Regions from separate parts of the Homo sapiens genome. Here all the other regions are linked to region 7. The links come from fine-mapping of genetic effects on gene expression. A gene starts in region 7. Each other region holds a variant in brackets. All regions are shown on one strand. Distances are from middle to middle.

What was found. PIP is the estimated chance that this variant, and not a neighbour inherited with it, causes the effect.
Region 1: its variant is the best candidate, but not a certain one, in a credible set for the expression of SURF1 in subcutaneous fat (TwinsUK, PIP 0.88).
Region 2: its variant is the best candidate, but not a certain one, in a credible set for the expression of SURF1 in esophagus mucosa (GTEx, PIP 0.72).
Region 3: its variant is the best candidate, but not a certain one, in a credible set for the expression of SURF1 in left ventricle (GTEx, PIP 0.65).
Region 4: its variant is the best candidate, but not a certain one, in a credible set for the expression of SURF1 in whole blood (TOPMed, PIP 0.61).
Region 5: its variant is the best candidate, but not a certain one, in a credible set for the expression of SURF1 in adrenal gland (GTEx, PIP 0.52).
Region 6: its variant is the best candidate, but not a certain one, in a credible set for the expression of SURF1 in sun-exposed skin (GTEx, PIP 0.88).

Annotation. Positions count from the first base shown.
Region 1 is chr9:133,246,940-133,251,003 of GRCh38, reverse strand. It overlaps the pseudogene ABO. Among named protein-coding and RNA genes, the nearest start is that of OBP2B, 40 kb to the right of the region's middle. The variant C/T (reference allele first, on the strand shown) is at 2,077.
Region 2 is chr9:133,261,908-133,265,971 of GRCh38, reverse strand. It overlaps the pseudogene ABO. Among named protein-coding and RNA genes, the nearest start is that of OBP2B, 55 kb to the right of the region's middle. The variant C/T (reference allele first, on the strand shown) is at 2,501.
Region 3 is chr9:133,213,913-133,217,976 of GRCh38, reverse strand. It overlaps a transcript of OBP2B not described here. Among named protein-coding and RNA genes, the nearest start is that of OBP2B, 6.7 kb to the right of the region's middle. The variant T/A (reference allele first, on the strand shown) is at 2,049.
Region 4 is chr9:133,387,062-133,391,125 of GRCh38, reverse strand. It overlaps STKLD1 (serine/threonine kinase like domain containing 1), which reads right to left. Exons shown (of 18, transcript NM_153710.5): 5 at 3,578-3,679; 6 at 1,530-1,600; 7 at 330-445. Among named protein-coding and RNA genes, the nearest start is that of STKLD1, 13 kb to the right of the region's middle. The variant C/T (reference allele first, on the strand shown) is at 1,521.
Region 5 is chr9:133,320,496-133,324,559 of GRCh38, reverse strand. No RefSeq gene overlaps it. Among named protein-coding and RNA genes, the nearest start is that of SURF6, 14 kb to the left of the region's middle. The variant G/T (reference allele first, on the strand shown) is at 1,840.
Region 6 is chr9:133,425,770-133,429,825 of GRCh38, reverse strand. It overlaps ADAMTS13 (ADAM metallopeptidase with thrombospondin type 1 motif 13), which reads right to left. Exons shown (of 29, transcript NM_139027.6): 5 at 3,764-3,888; 6 at 3,481-3,627; 7 at 1,055-1,192. Among named protein-coding and RNA genes, the nearest start is that of ADAMTS13, 5.4 kb to the right of the region's middle. RefSeq lists a silencer at 1,024-1,093. The variant A/G (reference allele first, on the strand shown) is at 1,880.
Region 7 is chr9:133,354,780-133,358,833 of GRCh38, reverse strand. SURF1 (SURF1 cytochrome c oxidase assembly factor) reads left to right here and starts at 2,347. Exons shown (of 9, transcript NM_003172.4): 1 at 2,347-2,434; 2 at 2,514-2,565; 3 at 3,877-4,010. The coding sequence starts at 2,381. SURF2 (surfeit 2) reads right to left here and starts at 2,284. Exons shown (of 6, transcript NM_017503.5): 1 at 2,164-2,284; 2 at 1,766-1,920; 3 at 1,020-1,123. The coding sequence starts at 2,241. RefSeq lists silencers at 2,116-2,185, 2,426-2,545.

The DNA.
Region 1 (4,064 bases), 110 kb after region 7:
GAAAGTAGTGTAAACCAAAGATAAAATTCTAAGCCCACTCCCCCAGCCATCGGAATGGACCCCTCCTCTTGGCCAGGGCACTCCAAAGTTAACCTGAAAAACCGGTTCAGGCTGTGAAGAGAAGGTGGAGTGGACATGCCTCATTTATGTCCTCCTCCCTTTTGGAATTCAGCAAAGCTGACCAGCATGAACATTAACACAGACCTTAAGTCTGATTAGTGGCATTTACAATCTATACTCTCTGAAGCGTGCTACCTGGAGTCTTCCTTTGCATGATAAAACTTTGGTCTCCACAACCCCTTATCATAACCTAGACACTCCTTTCTAGTGATAATAACTCTTTCAACCAATTGCCAATAAAAAAATTTTGAATCTACCTATAACCTGGAACCTCCCCGCTCCACCTTCGAGTTGTCCTACCTTTCTGGACAGAAGCAATGTGGATCTTGCATGTATTTGATTGATGTCTCATGTCTCCCTAAAATGTATACAATTAGGCTGTGCCCAGATCACCCTGGGCACATGTTCTCAGGCCCTCCTGAGGTCTCTGTCTCGGGCCATTGGTCACTCAGATTCGGCTCAGAATAAATCTCTTCAAATATTTTTCAGAGTTTGACTCTTTTTGTCGACAATAAGCTCATCAGATTAAAGCTGTTGGAACTTTAAATTACTTCGAGCCTTGAAAGAATGTGATTCTGACACCCTAGTCAAGCAGCAAGTCGCTGTGAACTTTGCTTCTCCAATTATAGATTAACGCTCTTCCTTTCTTGATTTGTAAAATGTTATGAAAGACTAAATGGCACCAGATGTAAGACCCCTTCCCTTTCTTAGTTACTGACCTTTTGTTACGAATTAACTTCTTTCTTTTCTTGCACCCAACTCAGACCAGATGGTACAAAAGACCCCATGCCTATCAAATTCCATAAGACAGTATGTTAAATATACTTTTCCCGAAGGGAACAGGATATAACCAAACAAATTGCTGCAACTCATAAGCCAATCTTATGTGGAAAATGTAATCATGCTAAACCTCCTTGTATTTTCCCATTTAAGTGAAGCCCTAATCCCTCCACCTCAGAGCACTGAGCCCATTCCTTTAGAGTCTGTGTTTTTTGAGTGGTGGTCGTCAAACTTAGAGTTCGAATAAACTCTATAACATTGGATTTTGAACCTTTCAATTATTTCAGGTGGCAGAAGAAACACACAGACCCCATCTCTTCCTTTGGAGTTCTGTACTGCTCATTTCAAAGGGATTTCATCCTGCCCTCTGTAACCACCCAAGGGGTTCCTCCTGCTCCCTTTCTAAATAAAGACCATGCATTCCAGTAAAGAAAGAGTTTAATAGACATGAGGCCAACCACATGGTAGAGAGAGTTTGTACTCAAATCATCTCATCAAAGGCTCATAGCTAGGGGTTTCTCAAGGCAGTTTGGGGGGTCAGGGGTGGCCAAGTAACAGGTACTGATTGGCTGGGGCAGACATGAACTCATGGAGGGTCAAAGCTGTCCTCCTGCAGGCTAAATCGCTTCTTAGGGGGGTGTCACAGGAGTGAGGTTGGGGGTTCCAGGTAGAGCCATGGGTATCAGACCTGCAAAAAACCTGAAAAGATATCTCAAAAGACCAATCTACAGTTGGGGAAATTGTGTATTTTGCTAGAGAGGTCTACACCTTAGCTTCTCCCTCTCGCCTCATAGCTTTTCATTAGGTTTACACAGGCAGAAGAGTTTTGGGGGAGGCCTGCTGTTATTTAAACTATAAATTAAATGTCTCCCAAGGTTAGCTCAGCCCAAAAGCCCAGGAATCATTAAGGGAAAGGAAAGATGAGGGGCGGGTTAGCTCAGCTCACTCTTACAATTTTTCTAATTGATAGAGTTTTTGCAAAGGCGGTTTCACTTTCAGCGTGGTCGTTCTCCTAACCTCTCCTGCTTCCCCAGGTCCTCACCCTAAACCAGCACCCATCCTGCACTCCCAGGGTGAACCCTCCCTTCCCTCCTGCTCACCTGGGCCCAACCCAGTTTCCCCCCAGGAGCTGCGGAAGGGCCCAGTGGTGCCACCTTGGCCTCCAGGCATCACTCT[C/T]CAACTTCTTCCCTCCTCCCTCCACAGGACCCTTGCCTCAAATGTCAGTCCCGCTGCTCTCTGCTGCACTCAGCCTCTTCCTGGCAAGTGTGCCCCTCCCCTCTTGAAGCCATCACCAGCCTCTCGTGCCCACCCCCATCTAGGCCCCCCACTCCTCTCCAGTCCCGGTGTCTTGGAAGAGCCTCTGGATCACAGGGGCTGGGAAATTCGACTTGTCATCCCCACCAAGCAAACACATGCTTCCATCCAGGGCCCCTCAGTGGGTGAAGGCTGAGCCCCAGTAAAGGATAGATCATCACTGTCAGAGGCGAGTGAACTAGAGCGACTCCATGTTGAATAGGGACTGGGTAAAATGAGGCTGAACCTTCTGCACTGCATTCTCAGGGGGTTAGGCATTCTTAGTCACAGGATAAGATAGGAGGTTGGCAGGATTAGTATCACAAGATACAAGTCACCAAGACCCTGCTGATCAAATGGGATGCAGTAAAGAAGCCAGCCAAAACCCACCAAAACCAAGATGGCGACAAAAGGAACCTCCAGTTGTCCTCACTGCTCATTATGCGCTAATTATAATACATTAGCTGCTAAAAGACACTCCCACCTGTGCCACAACAGTTTACAAATGCCATGGCAACGTCCAGAAGTTACCCCATATGGTCTAAAAAGGAGAGGGACCCTCAGTTCAGAAAAATCCCCTCCCCTTTCTTGGAAAACTCACAAACAATCCACCTGTTGTTGAGCCTATAATCCAGAAATCAGTATAAGTATACTCAGCTGAGATCCAAGAACCCTGTCTTGGGGTTTGGACTGGGACTCCTTTCTGGTAACAATACTAGGGTATACGGAGCCCCCACATCCCCGGGCAAGTGGTGCAGAAGCCGGAGCCATCAGCAGCCGCCCCTGGCAGGCTCCTGTGTGGACTCCTTGCTGCAGGGCATTTGGTTTACCAGGCGTGAGAGACCCACACGTGAAGCGCTAGCCCAGCCCCATCACCGCAGCACAGCCTCACCACTGCAGCCCAGAAAAACCACTGCAGCCCAGACACACGACTGCAGCTGAGGCCCATCACTGCAGCCCAGACACACCACTGCACCCACTGCAGCTCAGCCCACCACTGCACCCCAGCCCCACCACTGTAGCTCAGCCCGACCACTGCAGCCCAGCCCACCATTGCAGCCCAGACACACCACTGCAGCCCAGCCCACCACTGCAGCCCAGCCCCACCATTGCAGCCCAGGCCCTGCAGTTGTCCCTACTAGGTCTGAGTGGAGGAATCAGAGAGAAAACTCTGGAAAGTGCTAGACACAGGGGAGGCCCTCAAGGAATGGTGGCTGCCACTGGGAACTCTGTTTCTGTGGTGCTTACTGGACAGATAGGCTCCTTTGCAGATTTTTTTATTCCAAAACTAAGCTCCCATCACCCAGTCCTGTCCTCCCTGCTGGCAGAGCTTGTCCCTGGATCCAAGCTGTCTCCTCTGCACCAAATCCGGTGGCCTCAAGTCCCAGCTCTGCTTTGCACAGGGGCTTTTCGAAGCCCTGTCTCCCCTGCTGTGAGATGGGGGTCACCCAGCTGCCCCCCAGGGGGTGGTGTTGCTGACGGAGCAGGTGAAGACAATGCCAAGAGCTGCGCGTGGTCTGGCTTTCCCAGGCTGGATGTGCCCCTCTGATCCTCAGTCTCCCCACATGGACAATGGCTGATGCCGACCACCCACACTAGGTTTGCCCCAGAGTCAAAGTGAGCTCCTTGAGGACAGGGAACTGACCCCCACACAGGGCCCCCCAGGATCTGCTTGAGGAGGCACCAGGCAGTTCTCCCAGAAGGCAGGGCGTGTCTTCAGAGCTCTCTGGGTTGAGTGGGCCTAGGCCATCGCTGCCTCTGCCCAAGTCTTTCTAGAGGCTTCCCAAGTACCAGAGCTGCCCTGGAGGGCCAGAGTTACCAGAAAGTCCAAAGGGAGAAAGTCAGAGAGACACCAGCACACCCAAGAAGTC
Region 2 (4,064 bases), 93 kb after region 7:
TGCAACCTCCGTCTCCCAGGTTCAGGAGATTCTCCTGCCTCAGCCTCCCAAGTAGCTGGGATTACAGGCATGCGCCACCACACCCAGCTAATTTTTTGTATTTTTAGTAGAGGCAGGATTTCACCGTGTTGGTCAGGCTAGACTCGAATGCCTGACCTCGTGATCCACCCACCTCGGCCTCCCAAAGTGCTGGGGTTACGGGCGTGAGCCACCACGCCTGGCCTTAGTTTTTGTATTTTTAGTAGAGATGAGGTTTCACCATGTTGGCCAGGCTGGTCTTGAACTCCTGATCTCAGGTGATCCACCTGCCTCGGCCTCCCAAAGTGCTGAGATTACAGGCATGAGCCACTGTGCCCGACCTCTCTTTTAGTTATTTTTAAATGTGCAATTAAATTATTATTGACTATAGTCTCCCTGTTATGCTATCAAATACTGGGTCTTATTCATTCTTTCTATTTATTTGTACACATTAACCATCCCTACATACCCTCTCACCCCTGCCACTACCCTTCCAAGTCTCTGCGAACCATCCTTCTATTCTCTATCTCCATGAGTTTAATTGTTTCGATGTTTTGATACTACAGATAAGTGAGAACATGCAGTGTCTGTCTCTCTGTGCCTGGCGAGAAAATATTTGTAATATTTGTATTTGGCAAAGGACTTGTATCCAAAATATAGAAATAAATTCTGCTCAATAATAAAAAGAGAAACAACTTAATGAGACCCAGTGTCTACAAAAAGTAGAATAATTAGCCGGGCATGTTGGTGCATGTCTGTAGTCCCACCTAATCAGGAGGCTGAGGGGGAAAGATCACTTAAGCTCAGGAGTTCGAGGTTGCAGCGAGCTGTGATCGTGCCACTGCACTCCAGCCTGGGTGACAGAGTAAGATCCTGTCTAAAAAAAATAAAAATAGAGGGCCAGGTGAGGTGGCTTATGCCTGTAATCCCAGCACATTGGGAGGCTGAGGCAGGTGGATTGCTTAAGCCCAGGAGTTCAAGACCAGCCTGGGCAACATGGTGAAACCCCATCTCTACCAAAACCACAAAAAATCAGCTAGATGTGGTGCATGCCTATAGTCTCAGCTACTCAAAAGGCTGAGGTGGGAGGATCACCTGAGCCCAGGAAGTCGAGGCTGTAGTGAGCCATGATCATGCCACCACACTCCAGCCTGGGCAACTGGAGTGGGACTGTGCCCCCCAAAAATATATATAAGTAAATAAATAAATAAATAAATAATAAAATGAGCTAAAGATCTGGACAGGCTTCATAAGAAGCAAGCAAATGGCCAATAAATACATGAAAAGATGATTTACCTCCTTAGTCATTGGACACACTTAGATACCACTCCTCATCCACTAGCATGGCTAAAGGATAAAAGAGTGACCATCAAGTGTTGGCAAGGACTGTGGTTCTCGTACATTCCTGGCGGGAATGGAAAATTCAGTCACCACTTTGGAACACAGTTTCTTACAAAGTTAAACATACACTTACCATATGACCCATCTTTTCCATTCCTTGGTATTTACTCAAGGGAAATGAAAACACAGGTCCACAAATACCTGCACATGAGTGTTTACAGAAGCTTTGTTGCTAGTGGCCCCGAACAGTGAAAAAACCACAGTGTCTGTCAATAGGAGACAGAATAAATGAATTGTGGCGGATTAACAATGGCGTGCTTCTCAGAAATGAAAAAGAACGAACGATTGATACACGTGACAATATAGGTGAATCTTCAAAACAGCATGCGGTGTGATGCGGCCAGACATAAAAGAGCATGTATCAGAGGATTCCGTGTATGGGAAACGCCAGGGAATCAGATCCATGGTTGTCAGGGTCAGGAGGGACCTTACTGGGGTGATTACATGTGTACATACATTGTGTGAAACTCATCAAAACCGTATACCTAAAGTGGGCACATTTTATTGGATGTAAGTTATCCCTCAAATTAAATTAATTTTCAAAGTTTTAAAAAATGGAACCATTTTTGCCACATTGAAGGAAAATTATTTCCACCAAGATTTCCCTACAGCCAAACGATCTACCAACTACAAAAATGGAAAAAATAATTTAGGACATGTAAAGTTCAAATGTTTTGCCTCCCACGTTTCTGTTTCAAGAAGCTATTCGAGATAAATCGCTCCGTGGTCACAGGACTTAGAAAGGTGGAGGTAAACACACACAAGCATTATAAGATAAGAAGTAACAGATGAATTAGTTGAAAGGGACTGATTTCGGGGGAAGGAATAGGAACTGGGCCAGGAGATAGACGCCTTTCAGGCTTGCCCTTGTGAAAACGATAGTCCCCTCTTACCTGCGGGGGATAGGTTCCGAGATCCCCAGTGGATGTCTGAAACCACAGATAGTACCAAACCCTACAGAGAGTATGTTTTCTCCTGTACACACATACCTATGATAGGGTTTAATTTATAAATTAGGCACCGGGTGGGATTAACAACCATAATTAATAGTAAAATAGAACAATTATAACAATATACTGTC[C/T]GAGGCGGGTGGATCACTTGAAGTCAGGAGATCGAGACCAGCCTGGCCAACATGGTGAAACCTGTCTCTACTAAAAATACAAAAAATTAGCCAGGCGTAGTGGTGGGCGCCTGTAAACCCAGCTACTCGGGAGGCTGAGGCAGGAGAATTGCTTGAACCCGGGAGGCGGAGGCTGTAGTGAGCCGAAGGTGCCCCTTTGCACTCCAGCCTGGGCAACGAGCAAAACTCCATCTCAAAAACAACAACAAAACAACAACAACAACAAAAACAATATACTGTAATAAAGGTTACGTGAATGTGGTCTCTCTAAAAAAAAATGTGTATATATCTTAGTTTGTGGGTTTTTTGTTGTTGTAGTTTTGTTTATTATTAAGAGACAGGGTCTTGCTCTGTTACCCAGGCTGGAGTGCAGTGGTGTGATCATGGCTTACTGCAGCCTTCACCTCCTAGGCTCAAGTGATCCTTCCACCTCAGCCTCCTGGGACCAGAGGCATGCACCACTATGCCCAGCTAATTGTTTTTTTTTTTTTTTTCTTGATAGAAATGAGTTCTCACTATGTTGCCCAGGCTGGTCTAGAACTCCTGGCTTCCAGCAATTCTGCTGGCTCAGCCTCCCAAAGTCCTGGGATTATAGGCACGAGCCACGATGCCTGTCCTCAAAATATTTTACTGTACTGTACTCACCTATTATTGGCCTTTGGTTGACCATGGGTAACTGAAACTCCAGCAAGCGAAGGTGTGGATAAGGGAACTACTGTACGTGACTTTAATATACATAAAATCACCTTAAAGACAATGATTGTTTCCAGAACATGAGCCTCTGAGACAGCAGGGAGATACTAGGGGAAGTTGGTGGCTCCTCTCCCTGGCAGGAACTGGTCTGGGCTCCTGGCTCAGCCTGGCCATGAGGCTGTCCTGGCCTCCCTCGGTGGGTTCGACAGTGACCTCGACGTGCTCATTTCAGTGTGGTTCATTCCGGTCTCCCAGGGGAAGGGGGTGCTGAGTGGAAGGAGGTCAATGGGAAGCCGGGGTGGCTCTCAGAGTCTGCAGGAGCAGTCGGGCTGATGAGCTGGGAGGAGCAGACCGCCTCCCTCTTCTCTGAGTGGGAGGAGGGCCAGATCTGGACTGGGTTTGGAGATGCTCAGGTGGGGCTCAGAGCATCACCTGTGGGGCAGAGGGACCATCTTGGCAGATGAAGGCCCGTCGCAGGGTGTGATGCCTGAATTACAAGGCGGGACAGGTAAAGTGGGGCAGGTGAGAGAAGGAGGGTGAGTGATGTGATTTTTCTACTCCTGTTTTCCAGGAAAACCAAAATGCCACGCACTTCGACCTATGATCCTTTTCCTAATAATGCTTGTCTTGGTCTTGTTTGGGTAAGACACATTTGACCATCGAGGCTGGCCTGGTTTGGGGAGAAGTGACCACAGCAGCCAATCAGACCCATGGGGCCTCCCTGAGCTCCCCAAGTATCACAGTTATCAGGGTCCTAAGGACAGTTATTGCCTGCGTCCAGCTCTGGCGGAGGGTGTGCTTACTTGCTCCCTTATTTTAGCCTCACCTGGGC
Region 3 (4,064 bases), 140 kb after region 7:
GGATCCAGAGACAATAGATTGAACAGGGATTGCTTGCACAATGAACAATCAGCTCTAGAGGTTTAAAGAGAACCACAAAGAATGGCTCAGGATTGCACGAGGGCAGTTAAGGAAGAAATAAACAGGGGTGGGGATCCTTTCCACAAGTCTGGGTTCAGACCTCACGGGAGAAGGTGTGGTTCTCCCAAGGGAAGCTGGAGAAGTTTGCTGGGTTGTCCCAGCCACAGCTGGCCCACGGTCAGGGCAGAGGCCAGCAGGCAGGGAAATGTAGGCTGGGTCTGGCAAGCAGGAAGCCTCTCTCCCCACCCAAGGCAGGTGGGCTGGGGCTGGGAAGCCTGCAAGAGTCACTGGGAACCCACAGGTGCAGATGCCACTGAATCTCAATAGGAAGCCATCTGGGGGCGGTCCCCTGAATTCAATGTGGTGTGTGCCGCCAGACGTCCCCGACTTGTGCCACTGCCATTTGCATAGGAAGAGAAAGAAAAAGGAAGAAATGGAAGCATCTGGAACCAGTCATCCTGGACCCATGCTAGGAGGCGCTTCTCCCTACGCCTCAACCAACAAAGCTTAGCATTGCACCAGGTGCACAAGAGAAGCGCCTGCTGGCTCCAGCTCCATTGCCTCGGAACCGGCCATGAAGGGTACGTGTGGAGCTGGAGGCAAGACATTGATAGCTGGCACTGCAATTCACTTATTTATTGTGTTCATTTTAAGTCCCCTGCACCTAGAATATAAGCCCCCCGAGCACAGGACATTTGTTTCATTGATCGATGTATTCCTTGTGCCCCAAAGAATGAGAGGCATCTAGAAAGTCTGCAAAAATCAAACATAAAAATGAACCTTTATTCAGTCATTGTTATTTTGATGGAAATTTGAGGCATTTCCAAGATTTGTAAGTAACAATTGAACCCTTCTGCTGGTTCATGTGTGGGAGTGTATCTGTTGAAATGATGCTTCTGAGTGGAGTTGCTGAGTCTTTGGCTCTAGGTTTTTTTTTTTTAAGCATTTATGCTTATTGTGGTTTTTAAATTAAACATTTAACCCTGAGACATTGTAGATTCCCATGCAGTTGTAAAAAGCCACACAGAGCTATCATGTGTATCTTCACCTGGCTTGCTCCAGCCCCAACCCCAGCAATGACAGACCTGTTCTCCACTCCTGAAATCTGCTCATTGCAAGAATGTCGTCTATTGCAATCATAAAATTGTGGGATTGGCTTTTTTTTTTCCTGTGCAGCATCATTCTCTGGAGATTCATCCCATTGTTGCATTTATCAATAGTTTATTCCATTTTACTTCTGAGTAGTGCTCTATGGTATGGATGTACCACAGTCTGTTTAACTATTCACCTGTTGGAGGATGTCTGTGTTTATAGATTTGGGCTATGACACATGTACAGGTTTTTGCATGGACATCAGTTTTCATTTTTCTGGGACAAAGGCCCAGGGGTTCTATTGCGGGGTTCTATGCTTGTTGCAGGGTTTTTTTTTTTTAAACCTGTCAAGCCATTTTCCAGAAACTGTCCAGTTTCCATGCATCCTCACCAGGCTTCAGTGTGATCACTATGATCTTATCTCAGCCACCTTAATAGGTATGTACTGATATATCATGGCTTTTATTTGCATTTCACTGATGACTAATGGTGTTGAGCATCTTTTCATGTGTTTATTTGCCATCTGTATATCCTCTCTAGTCAAGTGTCCCTTCATGTCTTTTGTTTACGTTCTATTTTTGAAACTGTTGAGTTTTGAAAAATTCTTTATAAAGTATAGAAACTAATTCTTTGTTGAATATGTAGTTTGTCAATATTTTCTTTCAGTCTTTGGCTTGTCTTTTTATTCTGTTAACAGGGTCTCTTACAGAGCAAAAGGTTTTTATTTTGATGAAGTCTATTTTAACAATTTTTCCTTTTATGGATCATATTTTTGGTGACACATCTAAAATCTCCTGACCCAGCTCCATATCCCAAAGATTTTCTTTCTGTTTTCTAAAGCTTTTATAGTTTTAAGTTTTATGTTTAAGTCTATGATCCATTTTGAGTTAATTTTC[T/A]TGCAGGGTGTGAGACCAAGGTTGTGGTTCTTCTTTTTGTTTGGTGGTTTTGTCTGTGGATGTCCAGTTAATCCAGCCCATTTGCTACAAAAGCTATCTTCCATTGAATTGCTTTTGCATCTTTGTAAAAACTTAACTGGGTATATGCGTGCAGGTCTGTTTGAGGATTCTTTATTGTCTGTCCCATTGATCTATGCATCTGTCCATCTGCTAGCTATACAATGAGTCTTGAAAGGGTAGCCTGTAGCTGGGTATGGTGGTGTGCATCTGTAATCCCAGCTACTTGGGAGGCGGAGGCAGGAGAATCACTTGAATCTGGGAGGTGGAGGTTGCAATGAGTCGAGATTGTGCTACTGCACTCCAGCCTGGGTGACAGAGCAAGACTCTGTCTCTAAAAAAAAGAAAGAAGAAGAAAAGGAAAGAAAGGGTAGCCTGATTCCTCCCACTTTATTCTTAAAAAAAAAAGTTTTAGTTATTCTAGTTCCTCTGCCTTTCCATATAAATGTTAGAATAATCTTGTCTATGTCTACAAAAATTCCTTCTGGAATTTTGATAGAAATTGTGTTAAATCTTTATATTATTTGAGAGAAATGACGCTTTTATTATGTTGAGTCTCCTAATCCATGGATATAGCACATCTCTCCATTTGTTTAGATCTTCTTTGATTTATTTTATAATCATTGCATTATTTTCAGCATACAAATCCAGCATATGGGTTGTTAAACTTATGCCTAGGTATCTCTTTTTTTTAGCCACTATAAGTAGTATTGTGTTTTTAAGTTTAGGGTCCGTTACTAGTATGTAGACACACAATTGATCTTTGTATATTTATCTTGTATCCTGCAACCTTGCTGAACTCGCTTAATAGTTCTAGGAGGTGTATTGTTTTCTTTTGTTTTGTTTTTCAGTTTCTTGGGATTTTCTACAGAGACAATCATGTCATCTGCAGATGCAGACAGTTTTCTTCCTTCCTTTCCAATTTGTATGTCTTTAATTTCCTTTTTAAAAAACCTTTATTGCTCTGACTAGAACTTTCTGTACTATGTTAAATACAAGTGGTGAAAGTGGACATCCTTGCCTTGTCCCTGATGTTAAGGAGAAAGCGTTTGTAACTGAGTATCCCAGCCTCAAAATGTGCTTAAAAACTTTTTTCCTTTCTTGCTTTCAGCCTTGAAACATACTTCGAAACTCTTTATTTCTCCCTTTCCCACCAGGCACTTCTGTGAGCAGTGCTCGCTTATCTAATTATGTGCTTACTTAGAAATTCCAGGGGCCAATTTTGAAACAAACCAGGCAGAGAGACCCAGCTGCAGAATCCTCCCTCTTAGGGGGAGTTACAGGTAGCCTACCACTTCCCGGCTGAAATCAGGATGACTCAAACCAGACCTCTGGACAGACGATTAATGACTCATGATAACCATTGGAACAAGATGCAGACCAACATCCTCCTGCACCATTCCCACATATTTCCCACACCTTTTCCTCCTTAAACCCCTTCGCTCAGTCCAGAAAGTTTGAATGGTCTTTTAAAGGCATGGGCCTGGCCATTCCTCTACTGCTAGCATTTGAATAATGCTGCTTTCCTTTCACCACACTTCACTTCTCATGCCTTGACTTCTGAGCAGCGAGCAGCTGGACTTGAGCCAGTTACACATCAGTCTTTCACCATGAGAAATGATGTTAGCCATAGGTTTTTTGTAGATGCTCTTTGTCAAGTTAAGGAGGTTCTCTTCTATTCCTACTTTTCTGAGAGTTGTTTTCCTGAATGCGTGATGAATTTAGTCAAATACTTTTTCTGCATTGATCGATATGATCATGTAATTTTTCTTCTTAACATATTAATATGGTTGATTTTTGAGTATTGTACCAGGTTTCCATCCCTGGAATAAACTGCTTTTGGTCATGGTGTAGAATTAATTTTATATATTATTATTTGCTAATATTTTGTAAAGGATTTCTGTATCTATATTCATGAGGTATATTGTTCTGCAGCTTTCCTTTTTGTGTTGTCAGGTT
Region 4 (4,064 bases), 32 kb before region 7:
TCCTGGGCATTTTCATATCCTTCCTTCTGACACTTTCTTTTCCCTCCATGAGAGGCAACATTTTCTGGGGTACCACAAACAACCACGACTTTGTTTCTCTCAAATGTTGGGTGTCTGTGGGGCCCTGCCTCTGCCCTGGTGGTGGCACGCCTGCTCAGTTGCAACCCAAAGGAGGTCTCTTTGGAGTTTACACAAGGCCAGGGCTTTGTGGGGACCTTCTGAGCAAACAGCTGTTTGATGTTGCCTCACTCCAGCACCCAGAGTGGCCAACGCCGCCTGGATTCTAGGCGCCAACCCCCTCTCCCACAACCTGGGGGAGCCCCTGCCACCTTCCTCCGCACGAATATTCCATTTGGCTTTGTCTGTCATTAGCACATTGGAACTCAGGTCCTGCAGTTTGCAGTGGTCACTGCTGATGAGGATGATGTTGGAGGGTTTGAGATTCCTGAAACCAAGAGGTGGGTTTGCCTCTGGATGCCAAGGGGCCACCTGGGCAGCCACCACCCACAACCCCAGGTGGGACCAGTGTGTGTGCTGAGCCTGACTCTCTGCTCCCTGCCCCACCTGGTTCTGCAGCAGCAGCCCACATCCTCCTCTCCTCCACAAAATGCCCCATCTCAGCCTACTTTTTAAGCAGTTGTTTCCTATGTACAGAAATATACTCAATTATTTTAAATCGGGGGAAAAATCCTCAACCACAAGTAGGAACACACCCAGCACTCCGAAGAGGCCCCTTAATTGACACATTCACCTCCTTAGATATCTCAGCTACACGTTTGCCTGGGGATTGATTTTTGGCCATTGTGCGACGTCTAGTGACATGAACACTGGATGTGGAATGTGAGCATTCCCTTTGTACGTATGGTCTGCGTGGTGTGTGTGTGTGTGTGTGTGTGTGTGTGTGTGTGTGTGTGTGTGTGTGTGTGTGTGTTTTAAGTCAGGGTTGCCCAGGCTGAAGTGCAGTGGCACGATCATAGCTCACTGCAGCCTCAAGCTCCTGGCTTCAAGCAATCCTCCCATCTCAGCCTCCATGTTGCTAGGACCACAGGCGTGCACCACCACGCCCAGCTGCATAGTTTCCCTCTTCCTCTTTAAATAAGATATTGGTGTTCAGAATTGGAGCCATCTCCCAGCCCCTTCAGACCATGGATTCTCCAGCCTGAAAGTTGTGCCGCTGGGGGTCAAAGGCTCAGCAGGGCCCACTCAGCCCACACTGGCCCCACGGCAGGCAACCCGGTCTCTCTTCTTGGCAGGGCTTTTGCCTCCTTCCTTTCCACGAACTCTAGAGCAGCCCGCCTGGCTAGCGCACACCCCATGCAGCTGTGCGTGTGCACATGGCTTGAGACCACTTGGAAGAGCCTCTTTCAAGCCCGGGAGGAGCTCTGTAAGGTCCCATCCTATCCTGGCTGCACTGGCCCGGTGCACCTTTCTCCCCAGATCCTGCCCACGGGCACTGGCACCCGAGTGGCCTCAGTGCCTTTTCTCCCGAAGCAGCCAGCCAGTCCGCAGAGGTCAGGGGC[C/T]CCACTTACCTGTGGATGATGTCCAAATGGTGCAGGTATTCCAGCGCGTCCAGCACCTGGCCCAGCACATTCTGCATCCACTGGGGGAGAAGTAGGGGGTGCCAGGATGGGAGGGGCACCCTGTGCTGCTTTCAGGGGGGTGACACTCAGAGCAGCCAGCAGGATGGTGGTGTATCCTCTCCTTGCATCTTGAGACAGGCCTGAAGCCAGCCAAGCGCTCAGGGTGGAGGAGGCTTCAGCGTGGTGGCTCTCCAGATGGTAAAGCCGCGGCGGCAGCCAGAAGGACTCTGAGTTTCCAGACTCCACACTGCTGTCTCCATACCAGAGACCCTGGGTGCTGCAGGGGCCCCATCCCTGCACCCTACTCTGTGGCCCGCGCTGCCCCACACTTGCTGGGAGCTGAAGGCAGATCGGCCTTGCGGGTATGGGAGAGGTGGAAGCCTTCAGTGCCTACATGAGCTCAATCCTCTAGGTCATTCAAATGAAAAGAGCCCTGAGAGAGAATGCTAGGAGTGTTCTGCATCAGAGACAAGCTCCATCGAGTACCCAGCGCGGTGATTCTAAAGCTGGGCTCCTAGGGCCCCTGGATTCAGGGCCACCCTGGGGTGTCAGAGAGGGGCTGAGGGGGCAGGATGTGGGCGTCCTCCCACTGCCCCCAGTTAGAGTAGGTCTGCTGCACTTACTGGGTTTCTGGGAATATTTCGTGTTTTGAAGGGCTTCACTCACAAAGTCTGAAACTCACTCCGGGCCTGCCTCTGAGGCCCATGGTAAGAGAAGAGCTGTGTGCCCCGAAGAGCCCCTCAGGGGTACATGGTCCCCCCAAACACAGTTCTCAGGGTAAAAGCAGGTAGCATTCATCTGGGGTAGATGAAAGATCTAAATGTGAAGGCAAAAATAACCAAGCTTCCATAAGACAGAGGAGAGTATCTTCATGATCTTGGAGCAGGAAATGCTTCTTAAACTCCAAAGGCACTAACCATAAGAGTCAGCATTGGGAAAGCGAACTCCATTACAGTTAGGACTTTCCATCATCAAAAGACATCATTAAGAAAGTGAACTGGCTAGGCGCGGCGGCTCACATCTGTAATCCCAGCACTCTGGGAGGCCGAGGCGGGTGGATCACTTGAGGTCAGGAGTTCGAGACCAGCCTGGGCAACATAGCAAAACCTTGTCTCTATTAATAATACAAAAATTAGTGGGTGTGGTGGTGGGCACCTGTAGTCCCAGCTACTTGGGAGGCTGAGGCAGGAGAATCGCTTGAACAGGGAGGCGAAGGTTGCAGTGAGCCAAGGTCGTGCCACTGCACTCCAGCCTGGGCGACAGAGTGAGACTCCATCTCAACAACAACAACAACAACAAGACTGACACAATGAAGTGCTGGCCTCCATGTGGATCGGGAATGCTCACAACTTGTGAGAGTAAACATGGGGCCAACCAAACCAAGTCGGAAATCTGTTTGGAGCATCCACTGAAGCTACACACATGTACTCTACGACCCAATAATTCCACTCCTAGGTATTCATCCCAGAAAAGTGAGTGTCTTCCAGCAATGCTCATAGCAGCCTTATTCACAATAGCCCCAAACTGGAAGCAGCCCAAATGAGACTAGGTAAACAGCCTGCAGCGCAATCAGGCAGCAGAGTGGCAGCAAGCAATGAACACATGATTTGCTGGTGCATGCAGCAGCACCGCGGGGCTCACAACAGCAGGCTGAGGGAAGGAGACCAGACAGGAGTGGCAGCATGCCGGACGAGTCCATTTACAGGAACTTCAGGGACCGGCAGAACAATCTGGAATCATGGTCACCGACTGGGAACCTTCTAGTGTTAGGAACGCCTTCTGTCTTGATCTGGGTGGAAGTTGTGTGAGTGCATCAAACTGTGCACTTAAGATCTGCACACATTACCTAGAGTGCAATGCCTCGAGGCACACATTTAAGAAAAAAACAAGGCTGGACTCCATGGTGCCTGCCCTCCCGCTGTTACTTTGCCCTGCACCGCAGGGCCTGTGTCACAGGTCTAGGTGGCCCCCAGGCCTGGTGCCCCAAAGGACCTCACCTCAGAGTCAATGATTTTCTTTGCCTTCCTCTTATCCTCAATGACCTCCTGGAAGCTGAGCTCATTGAACTCCATCACCAGGCAGAGGTACAGAGAAGAGATCTGCTGGGACAGGAGGCCCTTAGCCAAAGGACGCCCAGGCCCCGGTGCTTCTGCAGGCTCACCTGCTCCAGGGCCTCCCTGCGCTCAGCTGCCATTTGCAGTGGCCGTGGGAGCACTGCCCACTGGAGGGGGCTACAAGCCCCTCCTGCCCCACCTTCAGCTTCCTCTCTCTCCTCTCCCCATTCCCAGGCTCCACCTCCACTCCACACTCCATCCACACCAAGCTACTTGGACTTTCCCAAAAGCTGCACTTGTCCCCTGGCCACTGCACACATGGACCCCTCTGCTTGGACCACTACCCACCCCCTTCATAGGGATAACTATGCACCCTTTAGGGCTCAGCTCAGACCCATTTCCTCTGAGGACCCTGCCCTGGCCAGAGCCC
Region 5 (4,064 bases), 34 kb after region 7:
ACTTCAGATCATCAGGCATTAGATTTTCATTAGGAGTGAGCAACCTAGATCCCTCGCATGCGCAGTTCACAGTAGGGTTTGCACTTCTATGAAGATCTAATGCCACCGCTGATCTGACAGGAGGCAAAGCTCAGCAGTAATGCTCCGCCTCAATTCGTTTGTTTTAGCAAAGTTGTCTGGACTTCTACCTTGGAGTCTGTCCTGTCTTGGCTCTGCCCTGCCAGCCAAGGACCTGCCTGCTGCTGCCTCCCCACCGCTGCTTCCCCTGCTGCTGCCTCCCCCGCCACCGCCTCTCCTGCCTGCTTGCTCTGCTGCTGTTGTGCCTCTTCACGTCCCTGTTTCTTCCTGGCTGCACTTTCCACAGCATCTCTAGACTTGTGTCTGTGGCCTTTGCTTCCAGTCCTTCCTAAGTTCCACCAGCACCTGTCCACCTGTTCTTCCTGGGGCCGCAGAGTTCCCCATGGCCATTTCCGCTGCAGCCACTCCCCTGGCCACTTCCCCAGCTGCATCATGGGGCTGCCCGCTGGCTTGCCACTTTCACTTGGCTTTGTGGCAGTGGTTTTCTCTGTGTTTTCTTCATCTGCAGGGAAGTCTTGCTGTTCCCTTTTTGTTTGTTTGTTTTTGAGACAGGGTCTTGCTTTGTTGCCTGGGCTGGAGTGCAGTGACATAGTCACAACTCACTGCAGTCTTGACCTCCTGGGCTTAAGCGATCCTCCCGCCTCAGCCTCCCAAAGTGCTGGGATTCAGGAGTGAGCACTGCACTGGCCACCCGCTCCTTTTAGGTTTCTTTTTTCCCTCTGGTATCTTTGGGTGGATATTGATACTCATATTTGGATGAATTGGGTTTCCTGGATTGGGAGGGTGGGGCTGGCAGAGCCCAGAGTATAACTTTTCTGGTTTTGAGCCTGCCCCTCTCCTGACGTGCAGTAGCCTCTAGTATGGGCTGCCTCTGTGGCAGGGCAGGCTGAGTGCCGGAGCCCAGTAGGGCCAGGAGCGCCTCCACCACCATCCACAAGATCCCCTCTTATCTGGAAGTGGAGTGTCCACCCAGCACCCATGCCCCACTTCCGTGTGTGTTTCCGCAGCTCCACTCCCTGCTGGTGTTCAGCCCCTTCCCAGCAGTCCCATTCAGGCTAGGGCCTTCTCCTTCTGGGGTGTGACCCTGAGGGTTTCCTGTTCCCACCTCCTCCCGGCTTTCTCCACGCTCCCGCTGCCCCCCGACACCTGTTCACCCTCGGGACTCCATGCATAGTCTGCTTGTCTTTAAAATATAATAATTATTTTTTGGACACAGGGTCTCCCTGCGTTGCCCAGGCTGGAGTGCAGTGGCTCTTCACAGGTGCAATTATACTGCACTGCGGCCACAAACTCCTGGCCTCAAGCGATCCTCCCACCTCAGCCTCCCAAGTAGCTGAGACCACAAGTGCATGCTATTAAGCCTGGCTTAAAAAACAACGTATTTATTGAAAATTTGAGGTTCAGTAAGGCCACCAGATCAGGAGATAATTGCCATTGAAAGGATAGTTTACGACAGTTTCCAGGAGAAGGGGTACCCCAAGCCACACAGGGCCACACGGGGAAGTGCTGGAGTCGGTCAGGAGGCAGGAGAGGGCAGAACTGTGGGTGAAGCCCGTAATGTGGTTTCCATGGGAGGGGGTGGGCGAGGCGGTAGGGAGGCTTAGGCTTGGCTCATTTGAATGATTTCAGCGCGCTCTGGGGTGTAACACCTGCATGCTCAGTGAGCTCCTCGAGGAATCCCCCGTATCGCTGCAGTAATTCCCGTATACGCCTTGTGAGGGCTGCACACAGGCTGTAGTGGCCCTTCTGCAGCTCAGCGTG[G/T]ATGGCTTCTCCAGGGTCAGCCAGAAGCAGTGGGGTCAGAGCGAAAACCAGGGCTTCCTGGCTGTGACGCATGTGCCTTCAGCCACTGAGCTGCCCTGCTTACCCCACAGGAATTGGGAAGACATCAGGGAGGGCTTACTGGGGAAGGTGAGCATCAACCTTGACCCTGAACGATGGGAAAATTAGGATGGCAGAAAAGGGCATTCAAGAAAGGAAGAATTGGCCAGGCACAGTGGCTCACGCCTGTAATCCCAACACTTGGGGAGGCCGAGGCGGGCGGATCACCTGAGGTCAGGAGTTCAAGACCAGCCTGGCTAACATGGTGAAACCCCATCTCTACTGAAAATACAAAAAATTAGCCAGGTGTGGTGGCAGGCGCCTAATCCCTGCTGCTTGGGAGACTGAGGCAGGAGAATCACTTGAACCAGGGAGGCGGAAGTTGCAGTGAGCTGAGATCCCACCATTGCACTCCAGCCTGGGCGACAGAGTGAAACTCCATCTCAAAAAAAAAAAAAAAAAAAAGATACAAAAATTAGCCAGATGCGGTGGCACATGCCTGTAGTTCCAGCTACTTGGGAGGCTGAGACAGGAGAATCGCTTGAACCAGGACGGGGAGGTTGCAGTGAGCCTAGATCATGCCACTGCACTCCAGCCTGGGTGACAGAGTGAGACTCCAACCCCCTCCCCCCGCAAAAAAGGAAGAATTATATATATGATTATTATATATTATATACATATTACATGTACTATATAGAGAGATGATACATAGATATAGATCTATAAACAGATGGGATCTTGCTATGTTGGTCTTGAACTCCTGGCCTCAAGCAATTCTCCTGTCTCGGCCTCCCAAAGTGCTGGGATTACCAGCGTGAGCCACTGCTCCTGGTCAAGAGAGGAAGAATTTTTTGTTTTCTCAAACAAAGGAAGGGAAGGTTCTGACACGTGGGAAGTTTCCCCAGGGACGGAGTCCCTGTAAGGACAACGGGGCCGCGCAGAGCCTGGACGCTCAGGCCAAGGACTGACATGTCCCCAGAGCAGAAGGGCTGTGTCTGAGTCCCCGGTGAGGGTCGTGAGGACAGAAGACTCAAGCCCAGCAATACAGGCTGGGGCAAAAACACAGACGGGGTGGTCAACTGCGGGACAGAGATCAGCAGGAACTGTGGCTGTGCTGGCAGGATCCACTAACTACATAAAGTCATCAGTAAACATGGACAGTACATTTTTTATTTTTTTGAAATGGACTCTTGTTCTGTCACCCAGAATGGAGTGCAGTGGTGCGATCTCAGCTCACTGCAACCTCTGTCTCCCAGGTGCAAGCGATGCTCCTGCCTCAGCCTCCTGAGTGGCTATTACAGGTGCACACCACCACACCCGGCTAATTTTTATATTTTTAGTAGAGATGGGGTTTCACCATGTTGGCCAGGCTGGTCTCGAACTCCTGACCTCAGGTGATCCGCCCGCCTCGGCCTCCCAAAGTGCTGGGATTATAGGCATGAGCCACCATGCCCGGCCCATGGGCAGTACATTTGTGGGCTGGTGGGAGAGGGCTTGTCTTGGGCCTGTGCAGCTCCTCAGTTTCTCAGTCACCATGATCCTTGGAAAAGAGAAGATTCCAGGAAAGAGTAGAGAGATGACCTGGTTCCCCAGTATCAGGAAGGCGGAAGTGGCAAAGGGAGCAGAGACATTCAACGGTTCACGGGCAGAGCCAGGCCATGGGGGAAGGACCTTCTAAGATAGCCAGAGGCTGTGAATCCACATACAGGGTAGTGACACACACGCTCGACTCAGACTTTTGGGTCCTGTCCATAGCTGTGAAAGGGTACACTCGGGGACCTGCTGCGAAGGTTTGTTGTGCAGTCTCATGAGATGACACCAGCAGTGTGGTGAGACTCCTGCCTGGGCCGTGGCAAGATCTTGATCATGTTTAGCTCCTTTTTCACGAAGAAAGCTCTGCAGCCTGGGCCTGCCATACCCAGGGCGGGGAGGGGGGTGACTGCTCTTCGCTGATGCTCCAGTGAAAGGGGGGCACCTGGGCCCGAGGCAGATGCAACGGAGTTCCCAGTGACCAGCAGCCGGAATGACCTCTCTGAGCACGTCTGCATTCAACAAACCTGGACCAGGCTCAGCACAGGCCAGGCGGGGCACTGCAGGCATATCTGTGGAATGAGAGAATGAAGCTCCCCAAACACCCAGGCCTGAAAGAGGAGCAACAAGAAAGGAGT
Region 6 (4,056 bases), 71 kb before region 7:
GTGGGAACAGGAGTTCTCGGCCCGCGCCCCCCACCAGGAGCCGGCTCTTGGCTGGGACCAAGACTAAGGCTCCTGCCGGCGCAGAGGTGGGTGGCCAGCAGAGGGAGCGGCGACGGAGGGACGGGTCTGAGTGGGATGGAGCAGATGCAGGTTAGGCCCGGGAGCGGTGCGGTCGGCGGGAAGGGGACGCAGGGATACATGTACGCGGGTGGGGGAGATAGGGGTGTGGGACTGATGGAGCGTGGAGAGTGGACGGAGGGGTAGGGGCGGGTGGAGGCAGACGAAGGGTAAGGGGGTGAAGTGAGGGGGTGGGTGCAGGAACAGGGTGGGCCCAGGAACGGGGTGGGTGCAGGGGGCTGAGATGGAGGGGTGGATGGAGGAGGGTAGGATGCAGGGGTGGGTGTAGGCAAGTGGGAGAGAACCAGGGAGTGTATGTGGAGTCAAGGGGCGGGATGGGGATGGACGGAGGGGTGCGTGCCCAGATTGGCTGGAACGAAAGTGTGGGCGCAAGGGGGCGAGGGAGGACGCAGGGGTGGGCGCAGGGAGGGGGTGGAACGGAGCGGTGGGCGCAGGGGTTGGACAGAAGGGTGGCCGCAGAGTGGGACAGCACGGGGGGAGGTGCAGGGGGTGGGGCAGGTGGGTGGGACGGGGGGGTGGGTGCAGGGGTTGGGACGGAGGGGTGGGCGCAGGAGTGGGCGCAGCGGGATGGGACGGAGCTGTGGGCGCGGGGTTGGACGGAGGAGTGGGTCAGGATGGAGAGGTAGGACAGGAAGGAGGGCTGAATGCGGAGTGGGGACGGACGTAGGGAGAGGTGGGGACGGACGTAGGGAGGGGTGGCGCGGGCGGCCCAGCGGGCTGGCTGGAGGCTCGCGCGCCCGCCCCTCCACGGACGGAGCGGTGGGCGCGGGGTTGGACGGAGGGGTGGGTTGGACGGAGGGGTGGGACAGGAAGGAGGGCTGAATGCGGAGTGGGGACGGACGTAGAGAGAGGTGGCGCTGGCGGCCCAGCGGGCTGGCTGGAGGCTCGCGCGCCCCTCCCACGGGGCGGCCGCTACCTGAGCAGGCTCAGCAGCTGCCGGCGGCTGCAGGGGGACCAGGCGAGGCCGGCGCGGGGCGCGGCGCCGTCCGAAGCCATCACGTGTCCGCTGGGGCCGCAGCCGCTGCCGGGCGCGCCGTCGTGCTCCAGGCCGAAGCTGGTCGGGGGGCGGGGAGTTGCGCTAAGGCGGCCGGCAGGGGCGGGGGCGGGGGTGGGGGCGGGACGGGGGTCGGCGAGTCAGCGGCCCGGCGCCCTAGTGCCGCAGCGCCAGCGAGTTTTCCGACCCGGGTCGACCCCTGACGCCGCCATCTGCTAACTGGGCGCAGTGGAGAGGGTCGCGTGCGCCCTGCCTCAGTTTCCCCCAGAAGGGAGCGCTAGCCCAGCAGGGTGGCTCTCGCATCTTTTGCTAATAAATATCAAAAGCCTTTAAAAATGTGCAAGCCACATTAAATCATGGTGTTAGGAGTCTGTGGGGAGGTGGGGACTGGCCGGGGCCTTGAAGGGCTGCTCTGGGGACTGTTTACATGGATGTGTTGAGCGTGAAATTCACCTACTGTGAGGAAAGCACGATTTTAAAGTTCAGTTAAAACGTGCTTGCCCTTGGCCATTGTTTGCATTCCTAGGCCAGGAAGGTGAACCGTTTCCAAACTGTCACAACAGAGCTTGCTTTACCCAAAGCGGAACTGATGGAGGACTCCTAATGGGGTGGGAGAGGCCAGGCACCGGTGAGGTAGGAGGTGGACTCCACTCTGGAGGCCCCGCTTGGACACTGGACCAGAGGACTAGCTAAAACAGGGAGGGGTGGGAAGCCCCTTTCCATAAGACACGCCCACCAGTGTGCCAT[A/G]CCAGTTTGCCATTGCCATGGCAAAACCCAGAAGTTACTGCCCCTTTTCCATGACGAAAACCTAGAAGTTACTGCCCTTTTTCTAGAAATTTCTGCATAATCTGGCCCCTTAATTTGCATATAATTAGAAGTGGGTATTAACTAGGACTGCAGCCCTGCCTTTGAGCTGCTCTTTTGGGCACAGTGTCTATGGGGTAGCCTGGCTTCAAAAGGGGCTATGCTGTGCTGTATACAGTCACAGGGCTGTACACTCTGCCCACTGCCACATCAATCAAAGTTGCTGTCTAACACCACCTGCTCCCTCTTGAATTCTTTCCTCGGTGAAGCCAAGAACCCTCCCAGGCTAAGCCCCAGTTTGGGGGCTCACGTCTTCTGCATCACAGGAGCAGAAGGGAACTATGCTCCCTCTGAGGGAGAAGGAGCCCTGCCTTGTCCCACACCCAGGAACCCTGCCTCAACCCTCCCAGGCTCAGAGGGGTTGAAAGGGGTCGGGTGGGGGTTGGTGGGCAAGGAATGTGGAAATTCACTTTTTACTTTAGAAATCTCTGCACTGTTTGAATTTTTACAACAATTGGGTATTATTTTCATACTTAAAAAACTAAAGAAATGAAAAGAAACCCATCACTCTAGGTAAATGGTTATAGGTAAGAGTGAAGGTTTGCCCACAAGAATGCATAACATTCACAACAGGAAGACGTGTTCAGACAACCTAGACATCCAAGAAGAGGGGACTGATTAAATAAATTACGGTGCACACCTCTAAGATACCTGGGATAATGTTTGGGATATATTATTACATAAAGAACAGGTAAATCCTGCACTTACCCTAGGAAGAAAAAAGAAAGGCTGGATGCAGTGGCTCACGCCTGTAATCCCAGCACTGTGGGAGACCGAGGCAGGTGGATCACCTGAGGTTGGGAGTTCGAGACCAGCCTGACCAACATGGAGAAACCCTGTCTCTACTAAAAATACAAAATTAGCTGGGCGTGGTGGCACATGCCTGTAATCCCAGCTACTTGGGAGGCTGAGGTGGGAGAATCACTTGCACCCAGGAGGTGGAGGTTGCAATGAGCTGAGATCACGTCATTGCCCTCCAGCCTGGGCAACAAGAGCGAAACTTCATCTCAAAAAAAAAAAAGAAAAGAAAAGAAAAAGAAATAGCAGGTAACAAAGCAATGCACAGCATAATCACAATTTTCCTTTTTTTCAGGGATCCAAACTAAATCCCAATTTTGCAAATAAGAAATATGTGTGTGTATGTAAAGAAAAGACTGAAATTAAATACAAAATGTGAAGAGACATTATCTCTAAATGGTGGGATTTGAGATAATTTTTACAGCCTGCTCTTTCTTTACCTGAATTTTCTACAGAAGTTATTTTCTACCTGCTAAAGGTGTCTTGCTCGTCTTTTGGAAAAAAAGTTCTTTTAATCAAACAGTATCAGGTTCCCCTGTCCTCACACCTGAGTCTGTCGGGGTGAGGGGTACAGGCTCCTCTGGAGAAACTCTACAAGGACCCACTGCTTGCCAAGACCACCTCCACCCTGGGTACCCAGGTCAGCTCCTTGCCAGATCCTGGGGACAGCTGGTGGGGCTACATACCTGTGCCCAATCTCATGGGCAATGGTGACTCCCAGGTCGAAGCCAGTGTCCTCGGTAATGAGGCAGCTCCAGGTTGGGGAGCAGGCACCGCCCAGCTGGGTGACGCCCCGCACCTGCCGGTTACCATCAGGCAACTCCAGGTCAAACCTCGGTGAGAGAAAACAGTCACTTGGGTGGTGCCAAGGCACGTGCCTGCCCTGGGGTCACCTTTGCAGAGGGCAGGAGGCTGAGGGAGCAGCCTTCCCAGGCTGGCTGGCCAGCACCCATCAGAAAGCTCGGCTACCTAGTGATATAGAGGACCAGGTCAGCATGGCCAGGATCCGTGTCGTCCTCAGGGTTGATGGTCTGGCTCCACCCACAGACGCTCAGCAGGGACGAGGTGAGGTTGGCTGTGATATTTGGAGCACCCTGCGGACCCACAGCAAAGCCTGCATTTAGGACACCCCAACCAGGCACGGTGCTGACTGCGGTCGGTTTGTTTCCCAGTTAGTCCTCCTAACAACCCTATGACTAGCCCGTGTTAGGGATGAGACAACTGAGGCTCAGAGAAGTAGTCAGGCAGCCTGTGCTGAGTGC
Region 7 (4,054 bases):
GTCCATTTCCCTCCTTAGCTGGACTCCAGAAAGGCTTTCTGGTGACCCAGCACCTGCCTAAGGCCGGACACTGCCCTCATGGGCTGCAGCCTACGCTCCACTCTAGCCAGGTGTCCCTGCCAAGCTTCAGGTGCCTCACCAAGGTTGCCAGGGGCCTCTGTGTTATCAAATCTATCATTTTTCTGTCCTCATCTTCCCTTCAGTACCACGGGAGGACTTCCAGCCTCTTCCTGGGGCTCAGGACCAGGCCTCTCTCCCTTCTCTAAACTCTCGCCGGGTGCTCACCCAGATCCACGGTGCAACCATCTCCTTCATCCAGCACGGGTGTCCCTGTTTCAAAAGCCCGATACTTCCCTAATACACACCTTTCCTAATACAGCTCAAGCTTAAAACCTTCAAAGGGACTCTGAATTCTCCCCCCAAAACCCACCGTCTTTTCCTGGATGACCGCAGTCAAGGAGTCCTCCCTTCTCAACCATGCACACTGTCCATGCAGCCCCCACCCAACCCTCTCCACACACCCACTGCAGTGCTCCTGGCCTGGTCTCTGGGTCATCCGGGCTGTGCACACTAGCCCAGCCAGTCCTTTGGAGCCTACCTCAGCCAACACATTTTTGCCTCAGACTTCCATGGACCCTGGCTTCTCCCTGGGGTGCTGTTCCCCCGACCCCACTGCCACCACATCCCTCCAGCCTCAGCCTCGAGCGAATCCCTCAGCGAGTCTCCCCAGCCCTCCTGTCTCCGCAAGCCCACCCCACATCCCTCGCCCAGTTTCTTTCACACCTCGCATTGCCACGCACACTCACTCACTCCCGAGCCTGCTTCTGGCTCTGTGCCTGCCTGCACTAAAAGCTGTGGGGTCAGGGGCCATCATCCCTCTCTTCACTGTGCCAAAAAACAGGCCTGATGCATCAACACGGATCGCTGAAGGACGACCTGCCTTCAAGCACGCTCCATCTGGGGCAAGGCGGGCATGCACTCAGATGGCGATGCACTGATGGGGGTCCACTGGGACTTACATTTACACAGAGCTCGCTGGTACCGCCGGCCCTGGGTGTGCCTCAGCACGTGTTCTGGGCACTTGTTGATGTGCCGCAGGGTGAGTTTGCAGAACAACTGGTGCCTACAGAGCAGAGAGACCAAATTTGTAGGGACAGTTCACAGCAAGGATTCAGACTGGTGGCTGTGTCTTGGACTCATCCCTGGACAGTCTACCATGCGGCTTGGACATCGGGCTTTTAAAGGCTCCCGGAGCAATTCCACTCTGAAGCTGGGTGGGGAACCGTCTGACCCAGGCCGACTGCAGCCTCTTAATGTTTACCGGAAAAGCACGCATGGCAGCCTCACTGACTGCTCCAGGATGAGTTCATGCAAGAGGATGGCTCCACCTGGAGCAAGGGCTCAATGAATGGAAACATCCTATCTCTGTTTTGACGATTATTACAAAGCCTAGCTCCCAGCTAAATCAAAGACCCCTTCTGGGGTTAAGGGAAGAACCCAACGCTGTTCACAACCTCAGGTGACAAATCACAAGCCTCTACTCATCTGGGAAGCAGCCACACCCCACAGGACAAACCTCAGGTGAGCAAACGAGCTCACCAAGAGGCCTCGCCGCTGGGACCGCAGGTGATTCCAGCACCCGGGCGCCCACCTGGGTCCCAGGGCTCCCAACTCTGAAAGAGTAGGGGCTGCAGCACTGGCGGAGTCCAGCGGAGGGGCTGTCCTAATTGCCCTGGGCCTCCCCGCGCCGCCGCGGACCACCTACGGGTTCTTGGTGCTGGGCACGATGTGCGGCTCGAACTCTGCATAGTCGAAGGCCGGGGAGGCGCGGACCAGCCGCTGGTACTTTTTGCCGCGGGTGTAGACCTGGAGCTCCGGCAGGCGGCAGGGCAGCTCGTGACCTGTCAGGATGCACCTCACCTGCGGACGCGTGGGCGGGCAGGACGTCAGGAGGGCCAGGGCTCCGCTCCCTGGTGCCCCCTCCTGCCGCGCCCCCTTCCCTCTCCTCCCCTGATCCCGCCGCGCCCTCTCCCCTGCCCTCCCCTCTCTCCTGCTCTCCCCTCTCCCCTCTCCCCTGCCCTCTCCTCTCCCCTGCCCTCCCCTCAGCCCCTCATCCCAACTGCGCCCTTCTCCGCCACTCCGTTCCCCTCCCGCGCTGCGAACCTTGCGGGCGTCCGTCTGGAGCCGCAGGCTCGGGTGCTCCCGCAGAAACGCCCGCACGTCGCCCGGCAACTCGCTCATGGCCGACGCGCCCGCGGAGCAGCCCGGCGGAAGCCGCTCGCAGAACCTGGAGCCGGGGGCGGGGCTCTGGGCGGGACTCAGCGGCGCCCCGGATGCAGATGCTTCCTGCGTCCCGGAAGCGCCCGCGGGGCCGGGTGCGATGGCGGCGGTGGCTGCGTTGCAGCTGGGGCTGCGGGCGGCGGGGCTGGGACGGGTGAGCGCCGGGTGCGGGGTGCGGGGTGCGGGGCGCGGGGAGGGGTCCCGGAGCTCAGCCCGCCCGTCCGTGTCCGCAGGCCCCGGCCAGCGCCGCCTGGAGGAGCGTCCTCAGGGTCTCCCCGCGCCCAGGTGAGGGCTGCAGGCCGGGCTGTGATCCAGGCGCCTGGGCAGAGCCACCTGCTGTCTGCCCTGCACTTTGAAGGGTTGTCGTGGGGATTGAAATGAACCAACTGCCGGCTGAGCGGAGGCTCCCTGGGAGTGACAAGTTCCGTATTAAAATGCTTTCAGTGGAATTGTGGTCGTGTGCCGGGCATGTAGCGAGCGCTTTGTCCTCACAACGCGAGAGGTAGCTCCTTGGTCGTTCCCCTGTTACAGAGAAGGCTCGAGAGTTACTTCCGAACGTCCCATCCAGCTAATGGGTGGCCAGCCCAGGCTGAAAGCCCAGGGCTCTGAAAGTAAAGCGTATCTAACCACCGCGGCTTACGTGTTCCTCTCAGTGTGCAGCACAGGGCTGTTTTGCCGTGTGTAGAGTGCTGTGCAAGCCTGCCCCAGGCCTGCCTTTTTATAAAAAAAAAAAAAAAAATAGTATCCGCAAGGCCCCTGGTGCTTTTCAGCGGATGGAACTCATCCTCTGAGAGCTTAAAGGCACTTTCTGTGTACATTCTTCCCTCTTTACATTTACGATGAGTTGTAAAAATGGAAAGCTGTTAAGAGAGCTCTGTGAGCCATTACTGAATTGATATATTTTTCTACATAACACAACAACCACTAGTGCCTGACTAAGCTACTTAGTAACTGTAGCTGCTTATTTTTTATTTTTTGAGACAGTTTCGCTCTTGTTGCCCAGGCTGGAGTGCAGTGGCGCAATCTCGGCTTACAGCAACCACCTCCTCCCAGGTTCAAGCGATTCTCCTGCCTCAGCCTCCCGAGTAGCTGGGATTACAGAAGCACCATCGTGCTCAGCTAATTTTTGCATTTTTTTGTAGAGATGGGGTTTCTGCATGTTGGTCAGGCTGGTCTCGAACTCCTGATCTCGTGATCCGCCCGCCTTGGCCTCCCAAAGTGCTGGGATTACAGGCGTGAGCCACCGTGCCCGGCCAACTGTAGCTGCTTATTAAATGCATTTTGAATGGATGAATGGTGCATCTTAGTGCAGTGGAATACATCTAGATTCTTGAGTAAAAAGGCATGAGTTACTCAGGGTCGTGGTTGGTGGTCAAACCGGCACTGAGCCCTAGATCCCACTTACTCACTTGGCAGACGTACTGTGTGTGCCTTGTTCTGGGCACCGGGTTAGGAGCTGGGCTGGATACAGGTGCTGCTAGTTGGCTCTAGGCAGCAGGTTTTGATTGGCAGTACTGGAGTCTGTCTTGGAACGGGCTGCTCCAGGTCTGTGTTCGAGGGCTTCTGGCTCCATGTCAGTGTTGTGAAACTCTCCAGGGGTGGCCTGGAGGCCAAGCAGATGTGGCAGTTCTGCAGCAGAAGCATCTGCCACAAAAGCGGAAGATGACTCCTTTCTTCAGTGGGTCCTGCTCCTCATCCCTGTGACTGCCTTTGGCTTGGGGACATGGCAGGTAAAGACCGGCATCTGGTGTGCGTAACTCTGGGCCCTTGACCT